Homo sapiens: one gene and its partner. The protein of the gene in region 1 purifies or fractionates together with the protein of each later gene. This does not show direct contact. Each region holds a gene or a part of one and is shown in the gene's direction. Other genes may lie near its edges.

Region 1 (3,500 bases):
AAACTTCAAGTCAAATTAGTAAGCTTTATTAATGACTACAAAATTTAACATGATATTGAGAAGCTACAACTCAATTTTTTTTGTCATTGTATATAGATTTTGTAAAGTTAAAATCACAAGGACAAAGTAATTTATTTTGATGAAACTCAGAATTGTTAAAAATTCTTTCACTTTTTTAATAGCACAAATGTGCGGCCTGGTGACTGGCTTCCCTGGGGGATGGCTGCTCTGTGAGGGGCTGCCAGACCCTCTGCCTTGATTCCTGTTCTTGGCCAGCCCAGGGTGGTGAGCCTGTGGAAGGAGGAGGGTAGACTGTGCCTGCCCTGGGGGTGGGAGTGGGGAGGACAAAAGACAGTGTTCCAGCTGCCGTCTGGCGTTTGCTGATTCTGAGTCACTGGATGAGAGTGAGGTGTGTGTATTTGCCTGCTGAGTGGGTGTGAATCTCACCCCGGAACCCAGGCCTGCCCAAATACCCAGGAGCTCCAAGAGCAGCCTGTGTCAGGCTTTAATCTGTGGACACAAGCTCTGTGCTGTCATTCGCGTGTCATCGTTCGTGTCTTGGGCTATCCCTAGTATCCTCGCACACAAGCTCTGTGCTGTCATTCGCGTGTCATCGTTCGTGTCTTGGGCTATCCCTAGTATCCTCGCACACAAGCTCTGTGCTGTCATTCGCGTGTCATCGTTCGTGTCTTGGGCTATCCCTAGTATCCTCGCACACAAGCTCTGTGCTGTCATTCGCGTGTCATCGTTCGTGTCTTGGGCTATCCCTAGTATCCTCGCACACAAGCTCTGTGCTGTCATTCGCGTGTCATCGTTCGTGTCTTGGGCTATCCCTAGTATCCTCGCACACAAGCTCTGTGCTGTCATTCGCGTGTCATCGTTCGTGTCTTGGGCTATCCCTAGTATCCTCGCACACAAGCTCTGTGCTGTCATTCGCGTGTCATCGTTCGTGTCTTGGGCTATCCCTAGTATCCTCGCACACAAGCTCTGTGCTGTCATTCGCGTGTCATCGTTCGTGTCTTGGGCTATCCCTAGTATCCTCGCACACAAGCTCTGTGCTGTCATTCGCGTGTCATCGTTCGTGTCTTGGGCTATCCCTAGTATCCTTGCATATTGTTTCGCCTGCCCAGAACATGTGTGTTTGAGGTTGTCTTGCTCTCTCATATAACATGTGCCTCTTGCTATCTCTTGTGTAACATATATGTTCTATATAGGACCCTGATTCTACCTTCCCCCTTCTGGAGGGACCACCCCACCCTTGGCAGGTTGGGGGAGGGCAGGACTCTATTAGGGGTCTAGAGATACCTGGGCCATTTCATCTGCACCACCAGTTCTCCTCCGTGGGAGCGTTTCTGGGTCCAGGGCTGGGCCCCTGCCAACCCCAGGGAGCACTGTCAGTGTCACACCTGGCCAATCCCCTAGCCAGGTGACCAGGCCTGTCTTTCACTCTAAGACTGCGCCTGTGAGGGGCCAGGTGCCTGCCTCCTGCGGGGCTCTGCTGACCACACTCTCAGAGGATATCTGCTGAGACCAGAGCTCACAGGCCTAGCCTGGCAGCCGTATTACTGAATAATGGCCAAGTTAGGAAGGTTCCCAGGGCTGGGGGTCCTGGGGTAGGCTTCTTGGAGGAGGTAGGACTGGAGCTGGCTGGGGTGGGGCAGGATCCATGCAAGGGGCCAGAATCTGCACATGGGCCAGGATCTGTGCATTGAGGCCAGGATCTCTGCATGGGGGCAGGAGTCTCTGCGGGGAGGACTTTTAGGGGGTAACAGGATCTGTGCAGCGTGCAGGATCTTTGCAGTGGGGCCAGGATCTGTGCAGTGGGTAGGATCTACATTGGGAGTCAGTGTCTGTTCAAGGGAGTCGGGGGACAGGACCCGTCCAGGGAGGGCAGGATCTGTACAGAGGGACCAAGATCTACGCACGGGGATAGCATCTATGTGGGGTGGGGGCACGGTCTGTGCCAGGTTTTGGGGGCACTAGATCTTTGCAGGTGTGGCCAGGATCTGTGCAAGGGGTAGGATCTGTGCAGAGTGGCCAGGATCTGTGCAGAGTGGCCAGGATCTGTGCAGGGAGGCCAGGATCTGTGCAGAGTGGCCAGGATCTGTGCAGGGAGGCCAGGGTCTGTGCAGAGTGGCCAGGATCTGTGCAAGGGGTAGGATCTGTGCAGAGTGGCCAGGATCTGTGCAGGGAGGGTAGGATCTGTGCAGAGTGGCCAGGATCTGTGCAGAGTGGCCAGGATCTGTGCAGGGAGGGCAGGATCTGTGCAGGGAGGGCAGGGTCTGTGCAGAGTGGCCAGGGTCTGTGCAGAGTGGCCAGGGTCTGTGCAGAGTGGCCAGGATCTGTGCAAGGGGTAGGATCTGTGCAGAGTGGCCAGGGTCTTTGCAAGGGGGCAGGATCTTTGCAGGGGGGACAGGTTGTGTGCAGGCAGGTGCGCAGGGTCAATGCAGGGGGCAAGGTCTGTACCGTGGGCTAGGGGTCTATGTGGGTGGGGGGCAGGTTCTGCGCAGGGGGCCTAGGCTGTTCAGCATGCCAGGGTCTGTGCTGGGGGTTTGCCGCAGGCACAAGGGAGGGAGAAGCTGTCCTGGGTTCTATGGTTATGAACATGTCAGGGCAGAATGACACAGAACACACAAGAAGTTCAAGGGAACACATTATGAGATTGTGAACACCTGGACTGGGGAGGCCACGGCCTTCTGCTGGACCCTGAACGGCTCCCACAGAGGGAGTTGAGGTCTCTATTGACTCCTGAAAGGCCAGGCAAGGCAGAGCTGGGAGCTGCCTTGGTGGGGGTGCAGGTGGCTGGTTGCTATTGCTGGGTGAGAAGGCTTGGGGTCAAAAGAGGTGGGGGTCAGGGAGCTAGGTCTGACCTCGTCCCCCCTCCTTTCTTCCTGTCCTCCTATCCCCAGCGTGTTTTCCTCCCTCTTCTCCCATCCTTCCTTACCCATCCTCTCTCTTGATCTCTCCATACTTCCTCCCCACTCCTTTCCCTTTCCTCCTCCTCCCCATCCCAACCCCTCATCCTCCCTGTCTCTGCCTGTAGGGAGGAAGCTGTGGGGTGACCCAGGTGGAAGACAGACATGCGAAGGGAGAGGTGTCTGCAGTAGCAGGGATGAGGTGCTTGTGTCCCACACTCTGCCCTGGCCTCTGACACTGGTTCCTGGTCCGGGGACATCAGGTTGGGCTCCTTTGTCCTTCCCTTACGAGGTCTCTGCTCTGCCCACCCTCAGTGCCTACAGTGCCCAGGCTGGGTCCCAGGCTGGGAGGCAGGCTCAGGAAGCTCGGGTAGGAGGGTCTAGGGTCTCCTGCTCAGACGTTGGTGAGCCCAGCTGGGGCGGAGGGCTGCAGGAGTCCGAGCCTGCCTGGATTCCTGCCCCCTCTCGGCTCCTGAGGTCAGGGGGCTCACCCTCGAGCTTTGCCTGGAGAGCGTGTTTGTGCATGTGTGTGTCCTCTGGGTGTCGGAGGGCCTTGGTCTGTGTCTGCCTGTTCCCAAAGGTGTC
Region 2 (3,500 bases), on another chromosome or scaffold:
GGTGCCAAGTTTGATTATTTGGTAAGATGACGTCCACCAGATCTCGCCATTGTAAAACATAAGTTTTTTCCCCCTCCTTTGCAATTAGCAAGTAATCTGTGGGGTGATAATATTCTAGTAATATGCATATATCCTAATATCTAATCACCTTTCATCTAACTAATGGTCTTTGCATCCATTAATGGTCCTTGAGGTTTGCTTTTTGGTAACAGCAGGGTACACTTGCTTGATATGTCTAATTTAAAGCCAGAAAATAGAACTAACTAGAACTTTCTCACAAACTGATGACAAGGAACAAAAACAGAGGAATAAATAGAATTGGAGATTTTTTCACAGGAGCATAGCTACTTTATTTTTTATTGTAGTAAAAAGTAGACATAACATAAAATTTACCATCTTAACCATTTTTGATGGTTCAGTAGTGTTAATTAAGTACATTCACATTGTTGTACAACTGATCTCCAGAACTCTTTAGGTCTTATCAAACTGAAACTCTATACCCATGAAGCAACTCCCCATTTCTCCTTCCCCTAGCCCCTGGCAACCCCCATTCTCTTTTGTGTCTCTATCAATTTGACTATTATAGGTACTTCATGTAAGTGGAATCACACAATATTTATCTTTTTGTGACTGGCTGATTTTACTTAGCATGATGTTCTCAAGGTTCATCCATGTGGTAGCATGTGTCAGAATTTCTTCCTTTTTAAGGCTGAATAATATTCCATTGTATGTATATACCACATTTTGTTTATCCATTCAACCATTGATGGACATTTGAATGGCTTCTGCCTTTTGCCTATTGTGAATAATGCTGCTGGGTAAATGGGTGTGCAAATATCTTTTTTAGACCCTGCTTTCAATTCTTTTGGTTATATAGCCGAAAGTGGAATTGCTGGATTATGTGGTAAATCTATGTTTATTTTTTGAGAAACTGAACATAACTGTTTTTATGATCCAGGCTACTTACATGATCTAGGCACCTAACATAAAGAAGCAAAGTACATTGTTGAATGTATTCTTCTGAGACAGACATGTTTTATTTGCATGTTAAAAATACAGGACTTACTTTTTCATTTCAACAAGAAAATATGTTTGCATTTTTCTTCAAACGTGCTCATCTTTGTTTATCTTCCTGCTCTGATTGTAACATGAATACTGAAAACATTTCACTTTCTTCCTAACTTCATTGTAAGAAAAAATAGCACGAGCACAATAACAAAGTATAACTAGCACTTACCACAGAGTTGGAGAGAGAGTAGCATGGTGGGGACTGTGGTCCTGGAGAGCACGGAGAGCACAGTCCCCGTTGAGAGAGGACAGCTACTCCTTAGCTCCAGCCCATTGCTGCCATGCGTTGATGGTGAGCCCGGTGTGGTCAAATTTTCTGGCCTTTCAAGAGAAGCTGGAAATCTGCATTTCTGTGTGAAATATCCTGATTTTTACATATTAACAGCCAATTCAGTCTTTTGGAAACACTGTGGGCCACTCGAAACATGCCTATAGCCTGATTTTGGCCTGTGGGCTCCAGTTTGGGGCCTTACTGTTCACCAAAGCAGTCTTCTGTGAAGGGTACCCTCTTTATGAGAAGCAGGTCAAAGAGCCAGCAAGGAAGGCACCCTTCGGCTAGCCAGCCATATCAGCACAATCAAACATCTTGGCATAGCTGTGTCACTTCCACTTCATTTTATTTATTTATTTATTTATTTATTTATTTATTTATTTATTTATTTATTTTTTGAGACGGAGTCTTGCTATGTTGCCAGGCTGGAGTGCAGTGGCGCGATCTCGGCTCACTGCAACCTCCGCCTCCTGGGTTCAAGCGATTCTCCTGCCTCAGCCTCCTGTGTAGCTGGGATTATTATTATTATTTTTTTAAGTGAAAGCAAGTTTATTAAGTAAAGGAATAAAGAATGGCTACTCCATAGGCAGAGCAGCCCCACTTTATAAATTGAGTTTGGGAACTTAGAGATGACTGAAAACTTTTTAATATAGTGGTTATCCCAGAAAGCAGATGTCCTCATGGTATGTTATTTTCAATTTTAACTGACACCTAAACACAGTTATAAAAGTAAAACATTCATTGTGAAAATGTAAAAAGAAATAGGCATAAAAATGAAAATTAACATCTCTTATCCTAATACCAGAGGAAAAAAATATTTTGATGTATTTCGTTCTAATCCTAAGAATTTGGCCTGGTGTGTATACCTTTTCCCCTGAAGATAGAATAATACTATATATAATTTTATGCCTTGCTTTATTTAACATGCTATCATGCTATCATAAGCGTTTTCTTGTGTCATTAATATTCTTCAAAAATGTGACTTTTAATGCTCTAGCAACCCTGTGTTGTAATGTGAGCTGTGATAGGAGCATCGTGCTAGTGAGTGAAACCCTGGTAATGTTACCACAGCAGGACTTGTAAGCGAAGGACCACTTTCCCTTGGCTTTTCCTCTTGCTTCTTCATACCTTTGCTGTCACCTTAGTGTTTGTCCTTTCTGCACATCTGAAAATTCTGTGAATTAAACCTGAAAGCTCTCTTCTCCCCACTGATTTTTGCTTCATGATTTTATTTATAACAGCTTTATTGGGAAAATTCACATATTATAATGATAATTCCCAAATTCTTTATTGAGATAATTCACATAAAATTCACCATCTTTAAAGTATACGATTTAATTGTTTCTAGTATATTCACAGATTAGTGCAGCCATTACCACTGTCTAAGTTTAGAACATTTTCATTACCAAAAAGAAACCCTTACCCTTTACCCATCACTTCTCATTTCCCCCAGCCCTCCTAGCTGTGGACAACCACTAATCTACTTTCTGTCTCTATAGATTTACCTGTTCTAGGTATTTCATGTAAATGGAATCACGCAATATGTAGACTTTCGTGACTGGCTTCTTCCATTTAGCATACTGATTTTAAGGTTTATCCATGTTGCAGCATGTATCAGTACTTTATTCCTTTTTATGGGTGAATATTAATTCCATTGTGTGGGTATACCACATTGTATTTGTCCCTTCATCAATTAATGAGCATTTGGGTTCTTTGCACATTTTGGCTATTATGAATACTGCTATGAACATTTCTGTACACATTTTTGTATGAACATCTATTTTCAGTTCTCTTGGGTATATACCTAGGTGTAGAATTGCTCGCTCATATGGTAATCTGTGTTTAACTTTTTGAGGAAGTGCCAAATTGTTTTCCACAGTGGCTGCCCCATTTTACATTCCCACTGACAGCATATAAGGGTTCCTATTTCTTCACATCCTCACCAACACTTGCTCTTTTACTTTTTCTTTCTTAATTTTTTTAAATTTTTTTTTGAGGCAGGATCTTGCTGTGTTGCCCAAGCTGGAATGCAGTGGTGCAATCATGGCTCACTGCAGCCTCAGCCTCCCAGGCTCGGGTGATCCTCCCACCTCAGCATCTCAAGTAGCTGGGACTACAGGCACATGCCACCATGCCTGGCTAATTTAAAAAATTTTTTTAA

The links. The genes of interacting proteins can lie anywhere in the genome.
Region 2: the proteins of OPRL1 (region 1) and SLC25A14 purify together in Homo sapiens (affinity purification with mass spectrometry; one large-scale study listed by BioGRID and IntAct). This does not show direct contact.

What each region holds. Positions count from the first base shown.
Region 1 is NC_000020.11:64,086,582-64,090,081, forward strand, and holds part of OPRL1 (nociceptin receptor), read left to right. Parts: coding exon of another isoform or gene 1-18; intron 19-3,043; exon of another isoform or gene 3,044-3,178; intron 3,179-3,500.
Region 2 is NC_000023.11:130,360,419-130,363,918, forward strand, and holds part of SLC25A14 (brain mitochondrial carrier protein 1 isoform 1 precursor), read left to right. Parts: intron 1-3,500. UniProt on the Homo sapiens protein: Transports inorganic anions (sulfate, sulfite, thiosulfate and phosphate) and, to a lesser extent, a variety of dicarboxylates (e.g. malonate, malate and citramalate) and, even more so, aspartate and glutamate and tricarboxylates.